Linked DNA regions of Homo sapiens. The protein of the gene in region 1 purifies or fractionates together with the protein of each later gene. This does not show direct contact. Each region holds a gene or a part of one and is shown on either strand. Other genes may lie near its edges.

The links.
Region 2: the proteins of ADA (region 1) and SERPINB5 fractionate together in Homo sapiens (co-fractionation; one large-scale study listed by BioGRID). This does not show direct contact.
Region 3: the proteins of ADA (region 1) and ATXN2L fractionate together in Homo sapiens (co-fractionation; one large-scale study listed by BioGRID). This does not show direct contact.
Region 4: the proteins of ADA (region 1) and ATXN2 fractionate together in Homo sapiens (co-fractionation; one large-scale study listed by BioGRID). This does not show direct contact.

The regions. Positions count from the first base shown.
Region 1 is NC_000020.11:44,648,831-44,652,946, reverse strand, and holds the start of ADA (adenosine deaminase), read left to right. Parts: upstream 1-1,247; 5' UTR 1,248-1,339; coding exon 1,340-1,372; intron 1,373-4,116.
Region 2 is NC_000018.10:63,479,872-63,483,521, reverse strand, and holds part of SERPINB5 (serpin B5), read right to left. Parts: intron 1-3,650. UniProt on the Homo sapiens protein: Tumor suppressor. It blocks the growth, invasion, and metastatic properties of mammary tumors.
Region 3 is NC_000016.10:28,825,913-28,829,562, forward strand, and holds part of ATXN2L (ataxin-2-like protein), read left to right. Parts: intron 1-327; coding exon 328-478; intron 479-949; coding exon 950-1,074; intron 1,075-3,488; coding exon 3,489-3,580; intron 3,581-3,650. UniProt on the Homo sapiens protein: Involved in the regulation of stress granule and P-body formation.
Region 4 is NC_000012.12:111,515,672-111,519,321, reverse strand, and holds part of ATXN2 (ataxin-2), read left to right. Parts: intron 1-894; coding exon 895-1,073; intron 1,074-2,958; coding exon 2,959-3,168; intron 3,169-3,650. UniProt on the Homo sapiens protein: Involved in EGFR trafficking, acting as negative regulator of endocytic EGFR internalization at the plasma membrane.

The DNA.
Region 1 (4,116 bases):
CTATAATCCCAGCTACTCGGGAGGCTGAGACAGGAAAATCGCTTGAAACGCTGGGGGTGCGGGGGAGCGGTGGGGAGGAGGCGGGCCAGAGGGGCAGAGGTTGCAGTGAGCCCAGATCGCGCCACTTCACTGCAGCCTCCGCGAAAGAGCGAAACTCCGTCTCAGTAAATAAATAAATAAATAAATAAATAAATAAATAAATAAATAAATAACCTGTACCCGCGTGTTATTTCCCTCCGTCCTTACCTCCTCCCGGCTCCTTCCCTTTCACCTGAGATAACCACTCTTCTCGTATCTATGCTCATCTTTCCCTTGCTTTACATTTTTTCCACCGATGCATGTGTCTAAACATACATACTTTTGGTTTTGCTTTTACACATTCTAAAAGTTGCACCATTGTATGCAGTTTTCCGCAACTTAGTTTTTTTCACTCAACATTGTTTCTGAGACATTGTTTCTGTTGTTGTCTGGCTGAAGTTCATTCCGTTTCACTGCTGTCTAACGTTTCATGGTGTGAATATTCCGGTTTATTTGCCCACTCGCCCGTGGAGGGGCATTTGAGGGTGTTTCCAATGTTCCTGTTATTCGGAATAGCGCTGGTGTGAACATTCTGCACAGGTCTCTGGCTGCGCCTGGGCGGGTTTCTTAAAGGTGAATGCCCAGGAGGGGACTGTCTGTGTTCTCCCTCCCTCCGAGCTCCAGCCTTCCTCGCCTCCTTTCACTCCCAGCTCCCTGGAGTCTCTCACGTAGAATGTCCTCTCCACCCCCACCCACCCCTGATGAACTCCTGCAGGTTCTGCAGGCCACGGCTGGCCCCCCTCGAAAGTTCCTTAACTATACAATTATGGTGTGTGTTTCTGCGACGAGCGTCCGTCTATCCGGTGGAAGGCACGCCGCTCGAGGCTTGCGATGCTCCCGGGGTCCCCGCTTCTAGCTTGGGCCTGGCGCACAGCAGCGCCCAGACTGCAGGGGGACGCTTGAAAGTTGCTGGAGGAGCCGGGGGGAAGGCAGCGCCCAGCGAGGCGGCTGGAGCGCGCGCCCACAGGTGGGTCCGGTCGGGCGCCGCGGGGCCGTAGTTTTCGGGTCGGCGGGCGAGGACGCCGGGTCCAGAATTCCAGGAAATGCGCGATCCAGGCCGGCGGGCGGGGCGGGGGCTCCGGCGAGAGGGCGGGCCCCGGGAACGGCGGCGGGCGGGGCGGGAGGCGGGGCCCGGCCCGTTAAGAAGAGCGTGGCCGGCCGCGGCCACCGCTGGCCCCAGGGAAAGCCGAGCGGCCACCGAGCCGGCAGAGACCCACCGAGCGGCGGCGGAGGGAGCAGCGCCGGGGCGCACGAGGGCACCATGGCCCAGACGCCCGCCTTCGACAAGCCCAAAGTGAGCGCGCGCGGGGGCTCCGGGGACGGGGGTCCGGCGCCTGGGCGGCCCGAGGGGCTTAGCGGGGCCCAGCCCGGGGCGTCCAAACCCTGGGAACGAACGGGGGCTCCTGCAGGCGAGTTCTTCCTTCGGCTTAGGCCGTGGCTTGCTTGCGGGCTAATCAGGGACAATGGGGCAGAGAAGGTCCAGAACCCGGAGGCCTCCAGAGTCTGCTTCTGCCCCTGACTTGACCCCTCTGGGTCTCAGTTTCGCTGTCTGTCAAGTGGGCATCCTAGCACCGCTGAGCGCTGTGTGGGCCTGGGCAGGGACTTGAGGTCTCTGAAGCTCAGCTGTATGATCAGGCCCGATGTCTACGCCGGATAGGCACCTAGTGCTGTGCCCGGCGCCTACTGAGTGCTCAGTGAATGGAAGCAGCTTTGTACGCCAGCGTTATGGTGGTGAGCGCCAAGGAGCTCAGGTTTGTGGATGCGCCCCGGGGAAGAACCGTGAGCCCTGCCAGAAAGGGGAGGGAGGGGAGCAGAGCACCCCCCTTCCCCCGCGCGGGAAGAACAGGAGCTAGGTAGGCCCTGGGTTTGGGGCCCTAGCAGGGTTCACTCGAGGCCAAGCCATGGCCACTGGCCCCAGGGGAGAATCCCCTTGTTTCTCCGCCCACCAGCTGTGGCGTCTTGGGACTGTTGGGGTCAGGGAGGGTCTGGACCCCCTTGGCCTGTCGCAGAGTCCGAGAGGAGGGGCCCAGGAGTCTGCCAAGCAGGGTGAGTCAGCCAGTAGGGTGTGAGAGTGGTTGGGGAAGGAGTCAGCTGCAGTCAGCCTCAACTTACCCTTCTAAGAAATAGGTGTGAGTGGCCCAGGAGGTTGGCTCACGCCTGTAATCCCAGCACTTTGTGAGGCTGAGGCGGGAGGATCATTTGAGTCCAGGAGTTTGAGACTAGCCTGGACAACAAAACTAGACCCCGTCTCTCCAAAAAATAAAAAAAGTTAGGGGAAGTGTGTGTGGTGGTGCACTCCCGTAGTCCCAGCTACTCAGGAGGCTGAGGCGGGAGGATCGCTTGAGCCCAGGAGGTTGAGGCTGCAGTGAGGTGTGATGGTGCCACTGCACTTCAGCCTGGGAGACAGAGCGAGACCCTGTCTCAAAAAAAAGAGAAGAAAAAGAAAAGAAAAGAAATAGGTGTGAATGATGATGACAGCTATCACAAAAGTGCCGGTGAGAATCCAGTGAGTGTGCATGTGTCAGTGAGGGAGACAGGCTGTGGAGAGCCCACCTACCTTCTGAGGAGGGTGAGGCCTGGCCCCCACTACTGATGCCCCCAGCCCAGGGAAAATGCTCAGCTACTCCCCGTCAGAAGCTGGAAGCACTGAGGTGCTGTACAAGCCCTCCTACCCCCACCCCTGCCTCCTTCACGTCTTACTGGAGCTGGGGCCCATGATTGGCGCCTCCCCTTTGCAGTCTTTTTATTAAATGCTCTGGGCTCCCTCTGCCCTTGGGCTGGGGACCCACTGTACCCTGATGTGAATCCTATGGCAATAGCAAAGCTCTTTGATTGGCGGGGTGCAGTGGCTCACGCCTATAATCCCAGCACTTTGGGAGGCAAAGGTGGGTGGATCATGAGGCCAGGAGTTCGAGACCAGCCTGGCCAACATGGCAAAACCCCATTTCTACTAAAAATATAAAAAATTAGCTGGGCATGGTGGCGGGCGCCTGTAGTCCCAGCTACGCAGAAGGCTGAGGCAGGAGAATGGCATAAACCCAGGAGGTGGAGCTTGCAGTGAGCCGAGATCTCGCCATTGCACTCCAGCCTGGGTGACAGAGTGAGACGCTGTCTCAAAAAAAAAAAAAAAAAAAAAAAGGCTCCTTGATTGCGAACATGTTGGGAGTTATGGAGAGAACAGCAGGGCCCACTTCTAGAGCACTTGTTGCAGACACCCATTGGATCCTTGCAGTTCTTCTGTAACAGCCCATCAAGGGAGGGGCTCATATTATTATCCCCATTTTTTGGCCTTGCTCAGTCCTCCCATCTGATTCAAGCTGGCAGATCATTTTCCCTATTGGGACCTCAGTGTCCACACCTGGAGGATGGAACATCAGCTGCTTATGTGGGTGTCCCGTGTCCTGAGTCCCAAGGCCACAAGGTGATGCTTGAGAGTGAAGGTAGAATGTTACCTGCCATGTGTTTGAGGCGTGACAAATCTTGTATGATTGTGAGGAGGAACTTGTGTGAGCTGGCAGGAGAAGTGGGAAGGAGTGTGAATCTCAGAGCCACTGTGACCAGAGCCAGCTCCCTGCCCTCTTGTGGGAGGGACAGATGACAGTTATAATTATTAGCATTACTAGCTGCAGCTAATGGAGTGTTGATGTTTCTGTGCCAGGCACCGTTCTAAACACATTATCTGCATTTTTTATTTAATCCAGGCACAGAGAGGTTAACTAGGCCCAAGATCACACAGCTAGGAAATGTCCAATCTGGGGTTTGAGTCCAAGGGAGGCTGGCTTCGAAATCCCATGCCTCTAACCATCTTTCCTAAACTACCTCTGCAGAAGCCTTTGGGGATAGAGGTGCCAGTGCCCCAGGTGCAAACCTCCTGAGACAGGAGCCTTTGCTGTGTCCTTCAGCTTCTCATACCTGCCACCAGCTGAGGCCTGGGACCTGGTCAGCTAGAAGAAAGCAGAGCAGGGCAGCGCTTTTCAAACTGCACTCAAGTGGCCTGACTTTTAATGTTCACACTGTGATTCTGTGTGGGTCGGGTTG
Region 2 (3,650 bases), on another chromosome or scaffold:
AATAAAGCTTCTGTTGCTTTAAGCTGCCTGGTTTGTGGTGCTTTGTGAGAAGTGCTAGAAAACCCTTAAAGTAACTAATGCCTTTGCAGGACACCCAGCACATAACAATACTTAATAAACAGCAGCGGTTATTGTTTGCGTTTATAATACGCATCTGTGTGTAAGACACTACCCAGAGTGTTACAAGGATCAGTGGACCTCCTCCTTCTCTAAGCTCATAGTCTCTTTGGGCAGATATGCAGACAAATAACTAGAATACAGAGCTGCCCAAGACATGTGAGTGGTATAATAAGTAATATGGGAGTTAAAGAAAAGAGGGAACAGTTTCAAAATATGTAGCCTGGTAAAGTGGATATAGCAGCAACTAGGCATCTTGTCACATCTCAGAGCTCTTTAATTTTAACACAGCAACTTCCAAAGTGTTGTGTCTTGACTCCTGGCAGTCCCTAACACCCTTTCAGGAGGTCCATGAGGTTAAAACTATTCTCATGATAATACTAAGACATTATCATTCTCAATCTCTAATAGACAGCGGAGTTTTCCAGAGGCTATATGACATCCCTTCTATTAAGCCAAATATTAAGGAGATTTGCAAAAATGAAAAACAATATCACTCTTCTCATTACATTTTTTCACTTTAGAAAATGTTTTTTAATATATATATTATTCATATTAGTATTTAATTATTATATTATTTTAATAAATTAGTAAATGAACATTTCAAAATGTGTCTGGTTTTCATTTCTAGTTTGGTAAATAGTGATAGATATAATCTACATTTTTTTTAAAGAAACAGTTCTTTGGGGTCCTCGGTAATTTTTAAGAGTGTAACAGGGTCCTCAGATTTAAAAAGCTTCACTGTTCTAATAAAGGTCTACCTACCTATTTAGTCTGGTAGTTACTGATCGACTCCAAAGACAATTAGGTAAATTCAGGCAGTCAGGGCTTCCCTTTCTGGGAGCAGAGCTGAACTACATGAACTCCTGAGGTTCTGCCTAAGCCAGGACAGCATGTTTCTAAGGGAAATGAATTGATATTACTACCCCGGGGTGAGCAGTACAGGGATTAAACTCGAAGTGTTCCCCCAAAGCCTCAGGCGCACACACACAGACACAAGGGCCGAATGTGACATTGAAGGTCTTCAGGTAGGACATGCACCCTGGCATTAGAAAGTAAGCTCCACTGCTTAAGATAGAGGACTCCCTTTGGCCAGTACCCAAACGTGTGTCAAGAGTCAAAGGCATGATGAATAGGATTGCAATTTGCACCTTATACCTGGACACAAATTCAGAATGCAAAGACGAGAATAAGATGGAGGAGAGGACTCCTGGTCTTTAAACATTTCTTCAGAATTCTCCCTTTTATGGGATATATGGCTTGTGTGTAGGATGGACTTAAATCGATTATATCTCAGAGTCTGAAAAAGCGAGTTCATTATCCAAAAATAATGTTTTATTGACTCTGTTCATGCTCACTGGTCATTTCCATGGGCTTCCTCCTTCTCCATATGTCCCTGATAAGTACAGCCATGCGCTCAGGCCAGTTCCCATTGCAAATATACCACGAGGCCCCCTGAAGTCAGGTGGGCCTCTCACTTTTCTTTAAAGCCCACAACCTTACTCCTTCTCCCCTCAGGGCAGGGGCAAGGGCCTACAGGTGACATCACACCCCAGGGAAAGGTGACTGGCATTAGGTGTATACTGAGGTCAGCAGGGTATACTGAGGCAAAAATGAAAGCCTGTTGAGTGTTTCACCCAGTGTGCCTGCCACTGGGAAAACATAAAGAAACTCTTCACAAAAGGTTTGGGGAATCTGTGGACAGACTTTCAGAATAGGAAACCTGGCTTCCTTCCACAGCACATTTAATATTAGTAATGCCAAGTTCATCTACAAGTAAAACTCAACATGTACAAGAAGTAATGAGTTATTTCTTCACCAAATAGAGAAGCCTAAACCCAGATCCCTGAAAGCTTCTTAACACTTCCACCAGTGGAGAGCTAATCGCACTGATAATAATATGAAAACACACAAACTGCTTTAACAAACACAAGTAGCTCCTCCAAGCACGTATTTATTATCCTCCAAGAGAAACTAGAATAATTTTGCATAGTCAATAACAAACTATACTTTTAGTGATTTCCTTTGTATAGAAAGATGGTGTTTAAGATCTTAATGTGCTGAGGGAGTTTGGCTGCAAACACCTACAAATGGATCTTAGGAGTGGATCAAATGGTGAGGAGATGTTCATTTTACCATTTTATTTCACTAAAGCATTATTCATTCACTTGTCACAACATTTTGAGATACATTTAGTCTAAATGATTGTGGATACAAGATCATTGTGGCTTTTAGTGTAGTTAATTACACAATACAATTAATGCTGTGTTGCAATTCAAGGCTTAGATCCAGGTCCCTGTTGGAGATGTAAATCAGTGCACATCTGACATCCTAACATCTCTGGGGCTTTCTCTCACCATTGGCGGACCTTCCCTTTGAGTGAGTCCCTTCCTTTGCATGCTAATCCTCAGTGCATGAACGCAAAGAGATCTGCCTTCCTGTTCCTATGCTGACTGGCTCCTTTCTCAGAAAATTCTCCTTCATGTCTGGGAAGGTCATACAGCCCTTAGTATCTGGGGTCCCAGTGGCAAGAGCATTGTTTGATGCTGGCTAAAGGAAACAGAAAAGGTCTGTACATGGAAAAGGTTGTAGTTGCAAAAAATCACCCACTAAGTAATCAATCAAATACTGCCCGGTAAATCTGATCAGTGGCTCTGTGATTAGTCCCAAGTGACCTAAAAACACTATAAAGTTGATCTGGTCTGAGGTAGCTCAAAAGATGACTTTGGCCACAGTTGCCACATGACTGTGTTGCAAGACAATCAAAGCATTTAAACAAACCTCAGCAATGTTAACAATACATGACCTGGAAAAAATACAAACTTCCTACACAGACCATTTTGCATGATCAAATGCTATAAAATTGCAAGTACCAGAGTAGAGATTAGCAATTCCTATATAATAAATTTAATGTGCCTAATGACTTCTGTTGAAAGTGCTAAAATTGCTACAAATTTTTTTTCATTCTGTTGCCTTGTCACAAGGGTCTTCTTCCATTTCTGTGAAAACCCTGTAACCATTTTAACAAGGAGAACTTCGTTTATAGTTGCAATGTAGAAAACGCTACATCTTTCAGCACTTAAAAGTTTAAAAGGAACTTTATTTTAACCATAGGAAAGTGAGATAGATGGAAGTTCAAGCAGTAATACAAATGCAGTTTTAAGAACTTATTTCCAAGTACCTTGCTTTCGCAATCTGTGCAAATTATAAACCTTGAAAGTGGGACAAGATCTTGGAGAGGATCTAGGCTGGCCACACCTCTTCATTTTACAGATGAGGAAAATGAGGCAGACAAAGATGAAGTGAGTCTCCCAGGCCACCCACGCAGGGAGTGAGAGTGGCAAAACCAGACCTAGAATTCATTGCTTCTAGCTCCCAGCCTGGCACTTCCCCGCCACACCTGATCACCTGCTTTCTTGTTAATTGCATCTTTGCTGGCATTTGTTCTCTCAGAAGTCTCTCGAGTTCCAAAAATCCTGCATGTCCTGAAGTCTCCCCTTGAAGATATCAACATATCCTGCATGGTTTGTTCA
Region 3 (3,650 bases), on another chromosome or scaffold:
TGTCAATTGGGTGATGTCAGAGTATGCCTTTAGTTGTTTCTGTAGGCCTGTGCTGAATAGTGCTGCAGGGAAAAAAGACAAATTTGAGGGCTGGGTACTTTAATGTTAAAATATTTAAGTTTAAATTTTTGTGAGACTTTTGCTAAGTCCTGTGGCTGATGTTGAGAAAACAATGCACTTGGTTCCAAGCATGTTGAGGATGTAGTGTTGTGAAAAGTTTGGGAAGGGTAAGAGAAATCCAGTTCTATTTAAGAGAAATCCAGTTCTATTTTTGCCTTCACTTTTCTTGAAACTGACCCATGGGTGTGGGGAATGGGGTGTTTGTAGTTTGAACTAGCCGTGGATGCTGTGCACCGGAAAGCATCTGAGCCAGCAGGTGGCCCTCGTCGGGAGGACATTGTGGACACCATGGTGTTTAAGCCAAGTGATGTCATGCTTGTTCACTTCCGAAATGTTGACTTCAACTATGCTACTAAAGGTATTGTCCTAGGCTGTTACCTCAGACCTGCTCTGTGTGCATAGAGGACAGAGGGTAGTTTGTGTGCAGGTGGAACATGGTGATGTGTTTGGTTTGTTTTTTTGTTTTTGTTTGTTTGTTTTGCTTTAATGCCTTTTTTTTCCTGAGCGAAGTGGGTGGATTTTTCTTCTTAAAAATATGTCTTGATGTCTAATATATAATGCGATGAATTCCTGTCTGTGTTGTGGTTCTTCATATTTTCTTTGCTTGGTTTTTAACTTCTTTTTTCTTTGGAATCATAGTACTGATAGACTTTTTATACTCTTCTTCTCTTGCCTCCCCACCCCCTGGCCATCCTAACACACGGGCACACGTACTCTGGACTTCTTAAACTTTGTTCCTGAACTACTTACGGAGAGTGGGGTTGGGGGATATTGGAAAGAAGTCTGTGAAATATAGCCTGACTCCTGATCTTCACCTCTGCCCCCACAGACAAGTTCACCGATTCAGCCATTGCCATGAACTCGAAAGTGAATGGGGAACACAAAGAGAAGGTGCTTCAGCGCTGGGAGGGGGGTGACAGCAACAGCGACGACTATGACCTCGAGTCTGACATGGTATAGCCTCCTTCCCTGAGAACTTGGGAGCTGGACAGACAGAATGGGTTGTTGACAGTGAGGTTCATTTGAGTGGGGAGGGAAATATTTACTGTTGCCCATTGATGGTAGTCAGATAACAAATAGAAAGGTATAGAAAATAGCAAAGTAAAAATATCTATTCTTAGCTGGGTGCAGTGGCTCATGTTTGTAATCCCAGCACTTTGGGAGGCCAAGGCCGGTGGGTCACTTGAGGCAAGGATTTCGAGACCAGTCTGGGCAACATGGTGAAACCCTGTCTCAACAAGATATATAAAAGCTATCAAGGTTTGGTGGCATGTACCTGTAGTCCCAGCTACTTGGGAGGCTGAAGTGGAAGGATCACTTGAGCCCAGGGAGGTCGAGGCTACAGTGAGCTGTGATCATACCACTGCACTCCAGCCTGGGTGGACCGTGTCACACGCAACAAAACCAAAACATCAACTTACTCTCTTACTATCTATAATTAACCACTCCTAGCATTTGCATCACGTTATTTTTCAACATAACAAAAAGTATAGATTAATGTGTAGGCCCATTTCTCTTCCCAAAATCAGCTACTCTGAGGCATTTAAAATCTCATGAGGCTGAGCGCAGTGGCTCATGCCTGTAGTCCCAGCTACTTGGGAGGCCAAGGCAGGAGCTCCGATCACTTGAGCCCAGGAGTTTGAGGCTGCTGTAAGCTGAGATTGTGCCACTGGACTCCAGTCTGAGCGACAGTGAGGATGTCTCAAAAAAATAAATAAAAACCGCTCATGAATAGAGCTGAGCGTGGTGGTCCCACACCTGTAGTCCCAGCTACTCAGGAGGCTGAGGTAGGAGAATCATTTGAAGCTTTGGTGCACTATGACTCAACTTGTGAATGGCCACTGTGCTCCAGCCTGGGCATCATAGCGAGACTATCTGTTGAGAAACAAATGTCTTGTGAATGAATATATTATTGTTTTGTTATGTTTAGTTTGTACAAGAATTTGCTTTTCTTGCCTTTTCGAACTTCTCATGGTTGTACGTAGATCTAGTTCTTTGCTTCTATTGTTGTGTGCTGTTTTCAAATATACACACACACGTGTACACAGCAAATTGTATTTGTCCTTTTCCTTAATCATCTGCATTTGGTTGCCATTATTTTGCTACTAAAAATAGTACCTTGCTGGACTTTTAGAACATATATTCCCCACGCACATGTGCCAGAATTTTTCTGGGATGTCTTGGAAATAGAATTGTTAGGTCTTATGACTTTTCAGGTTTACTAGTTATTGATAATTTCTGCTGCAGTTGTTAGTAATCATTAACAGTTGCAGGCCGGGCGCGGTGGCTCACACCAGTAATCCCAGCACTTTGGGAGGCCAAGGCGGGCAGATCACCTGAGGTTGGGAGTTTGGAACTAGCCTGACCAACGTGGAGAAGCCCCATCTCTACTAAAAATACAAAATTAGCTGGGCGTGGTGGCACATGCCCGTAATCCCAGCTACTCGTGAGGTTGAGGCAGGAGAATCGCTTGAACCCAAGGAGACGGAGGTTGCGGTGAGCCAAGATCGCACCATTGCACTCCAGCCTGGGCAACAAGAGTGAAACTCTTTGTCTCCAAAAAAAAAAAAAAAATTGCAGTTATTAATTACAATTATTAGTTGATTACTTTTGCCAGCCACGTTCCAATTTTTTTTCCACTCTTGTTTTGTCGTTTATTTTTGAGACGAGCTTGCTCTGTTGCCCGGGTTTTTGTTGTAGTTGTTTGTTTTTGTTTTTGTTTTTGTTTTTTTTGGAGACAGGGTCTCACTCTGTCACTCAGGCTGGAGGCTGGAGTGCAGTGGCTCGATCTCAGCTCACTGCAACCTCTGCCTCCCAGGTTCAAGCGATTCTTCTGCCTCAGCCAGGACTGCAGGCATGCGCCACCACGGATGGCTAATTTTTTATTTTTAGTAGAGACGGGGTTTCACCATGTTGGTCAGGTTGATCTCCTGACCTCAGGTGATCCACCCACCTCCCAAAGTGCTGGGATTACAGGCATGAGCCACCACGCCCAGCTAGTCGCCCAGGCCAGAGCGCAGTGGTGCCATAATAATTCACTGCAGCCTCAAACTCCTGGGCTCAAGTGATCCTCTCTCCTCAATCTCCTGAGTAGCGAGTAGCTAGGACCCCAGGCATGCACCACCACACCCGGCTGTTTCATTATTTTTTTCTAGAGATGAGCTCTTGCTGTGTTGCCCAGTCTGGCCTTAAACTCCTGGCCTCAGGAGAGCCTCCTGCCTCAGCTTCCCAAAGTACTGGGATTACAGGTTTCAGCCACTGTGCCCAGCCAATTTGTTCACATCTTGGAGTTTTTAACCTGATGGAAGGGAAGTGACTTGTCGTTGCTTTTCCTGCTGGGTTTTAAAACCACCTTCCTCCCTCCCCAGTCCAATGGATGGGACCCCAATGAAATGTTCAAGTTCAATGAGGAGAACTACGGTGTGAAGACTACCTATGATAGCAGTCTTTCTTCTTATACGTGAGTATCTTGGTGCTCTCCAGGTGATGTGTTGGTGATATGGGGTCACTAAGTGAAGACAGGTTTCCAG
Region 4 (3,650 bases), on another chromosome or scaffold:
TGTCAGGTGCAGCAGTGGCAGTTGATAGTAGGAACTGAGGTCATTAAAGGACTTGGCATGTCATGCTAAAGAGCACCCTGTTGGAAGGAGATGGGGTGAATAAACCCTGGGGCATTGAGGACTGGCTGAGACACAGAGAACAGTTAGTGCACTGAAATAGTTCAACTGTGAGAATTTGGTAACCACCTAGTTAAGGGATGAGCCTGAGGTTTATTTGATAACTAAGTGACTTAATGGATGTACTGGTAAGAGAGAGAGGAAACATGGAGCAAGTTTGAGGGGAAAAACAGTGACTCCGTTTGTGCAGCTAATTGCATATGTGGGCTTGTGGGTCTTTCATTTATTCATAAACGTGTTGAGAAATACCTGCTACCTATCTAGTAAAGTAAGAGATGCATCCTCTCTTAAAGGCAGTCAGCTTAGAGTCTGGTGATTTGAATTGACATGTCCACTGATAGATGTTGACACTGTGAGACTGGCGGTTCAGTTTGAGGTTTCATCAGCATTGCCGATATTGGAGCCATGAAAAACCAAAGAACAGCCAGTGAGAGAAGAGATCTCAGAGAAAATAAAATTGAGAAAGTGAAGGACAAAAAATGTTGTGAAGATAGACCAAGATTGATGGAATCAGCCATAGAGAGGTCAAGTGGGATGAGAATGAGCACGCATCTGTTAAACTTTGTGCTTAGGAGCAGAATCTAAGGGAAGGGACAGTCCAGAGGTTAGAACTCAGGGTAAGATGGAAGAACAGGGGCATCTGGGAGTGAGGCAGTTTGGTTTAGTGTAGAACCTTTTTGTAACAAGCATTCCCTTCTGTCTAGATGACTTTTAGATATGTTTCATTGGCTTGGTACCTTTTAGAATAAAATGATTTAGAGGATCTCTCATTTTCAGGGAAAATAAATATATTCCTCCTGGACAAAGAAATAGAGAAGTCATATCCTGGGGAAGTGGGAGACAGAATTCACCGCGTATGGGCCAGCCTGGATCGGGCTCCATGCCATCAAGATCCACTTCTCACACTTCAGATTTCAACCCGAATTCTGGTTCAGACCAAAGAGTAGTTAATGGAGGCAAGTATTTTGACCAGACTTGTCAATATCATTGATAAAATAGTTTTCTAAATACTTAAAATACTTAAAATAGTTTACATAACTGATATGAATGTGCACTTTAATGATTTGGTGAGTAGCTTTCACTTCAGCATTACTTAAAATTGGCTTTTGTGGATATTAAATTAGTAAAACATTGTATATGTCATTGACATATATATTATTTAGCATGATGAAATATTCATGATGTACTAAGATAAAGTGCTACATTTAACCCAAGACAATCACTTGGCCAAAAACACTTCACATATAAAGAAATTGGAAACTTTGGGTAGGTTCTCAATTTTAAAAACACTGGATAATAAAATTTTTTAGACATAATTTATATGGAAAATTCTAACCTATGTGCAACACTGTGGTTAATATAGATCAATTTTCATTATTTGTTTCTATATTATGCTTACTTCAAGAAAGGATCTGAGGTAACTTATAATACAAGACATGATCAAGAGTCATGTGAAGAAAGTGACTAGAGAAATTTGCTTAAAAAACAACAAAAACAACCCTTAGTCTAAGGGTGGATGTTACAGTTTAGCAACTTAAGTAAAAGAAACCTGAATCTTTAGTAGGAAGACATTTTTTACTCTACCTCTAAATCTAGGTTGAATATATCTTGTAGGTTGTGGATCTTTTCCATAAATCAGGGATACTGAACAACAGTTCTATGGATGGTATGGAAATAGTAATAGCAATAGTATGTTACTAACTTTGTGGGAAAAGAGTGGACATTCAATTTTAGCTATTTAAATTTGGAAAGTTAGATGAAAATAGAGAACACTAAGTTTCCAATTTCATTTGTTTTCATTGAGTCTTTTCTCCAGAATTCCTCTCCAAATGGACACTCTTGAGTATTTTCAGTACTTAATATTGGGGGTGAAATTTCTTTGCTCACTGAGGAAAGATTTTAGTTGTTTATAAACAGAATTTTAAAGTTAAAAAACCTGAAGGGGGCTGAGAAATATATGATACTTAAGTGTGTGGAACCCTATGGAGAGGAGACCTGGACTGTTTGATAAGATTAAGGTAAGTGATATGTAATGTTAAATACTAGCTGTATCTTTACCTAGGCATATCCATCAGTATAAATTTATTTGGTGATGACTGCTTTGTAGTTGCAGTATTTATTAAGCAGTCGCTTAGATAAGTGTTTAACTGTATAAATTATTTAGAAGGTCTCCCTTTTTCTAGTTTAATGAGGTCAAGACTTTTTTTTTGAAATAGCAATGAATATTATCATTTGATACTCACAGGAGTCACAAACTCTAGAAGAGTAATGTTTTATTTCTACTTAAATGGGACTTGCTTAATAAGATTCCAAACTGAGTTCTGGGTTCAAGTGTAAACCTGATGAAAATCATAGATAATTGTAAGGAACCAGCATTTCTAATTGGATATAATAGCTACTGCTTATTTTCGTTATGCCTCAGAGTTAAAACTAATACAGTAAATAATCTTACTCCTGAGTAGGAATTATTGTGATTTATTATGTGAAATTATCTAGTGTATGTTATATTCCTTTAAACAACCAGTTACTGAGAAACAGTTATAGAAGCAGGATTAATAGGCAAAGTCTTAACTGTCTTCTTCAATAGTGTGTATAGATCCTAATTAACCCTTTGGGAACGTGTATTCATTTAAACAGACTTAATCTTAAGGAGGTTAAAGTAAAATGTGAATTTATGTCAGTTAAGTTATGCTAAAACTTATCACAAATCAAATGACTGTCCTCAAAGGGTTAAAATGTACAAGAAATCATTTTTGTCATTTTACTTTTTTTCTGTTTACTTTTTTCCCTCATTTTTTTCTTTAGTTTTTATACTTTCCTTCATATCATTTGTTCTGTCAGGTGTTCCCTGGCCATCGCCTTGCCCATCTCCTTCCTCTCGCCCACCTTCTCGCTACCAGTCAGGTCCCAACTCTCTTCCACCTCGGGCAGCCACCCCTACACGGCCGCCCTCCAGGCCCCCCTCGCGGCCATCCAGACCCCCGTCTCACCCCTCTGCTCATGGTTCTCCAGCTCCTGTCTCTACTATGCCTAAACGCATGTCTTCAGAAGGTACAATACCACAATTTGTTCATGTTTTTGTTTGTCTTTGTTTAACTCCTATGTGAGTTTATAATTACAAAATAGTTTCCTCTTCATTATTTAATAACCTATAATTTCTGTGTTTTAACTTTAGTTTATTAAAACTATTTCTATTAACCTTTTGTTCATTAGAGAGAAATTTGATAAATGTGTGAAGCTATAAACTCTCTTGAATTGTTGTTAAAAAGGGGGTTTATCTCTGCCTGATAATTATGCTTCTTTACAGCCCCAGAAGGGTCTGCCCCACAGCCTTCCCCCTCCTTATTTGCACTGTATACAGTAGTTAAACAAATGAACTTTCTTCAGCCAGTCTTGAACTTAGGTTCATTTTACAGCTCTTTGGCCAAGGTCCTAGTGAACCTTCCTATTGGCCATAAGCAGGGATGGTGTTTTCTGGGTCTTTTTTGAGAGCGACAGCCCATGTAGCTGACTTTGCGTGTCTGCCCTTAGAT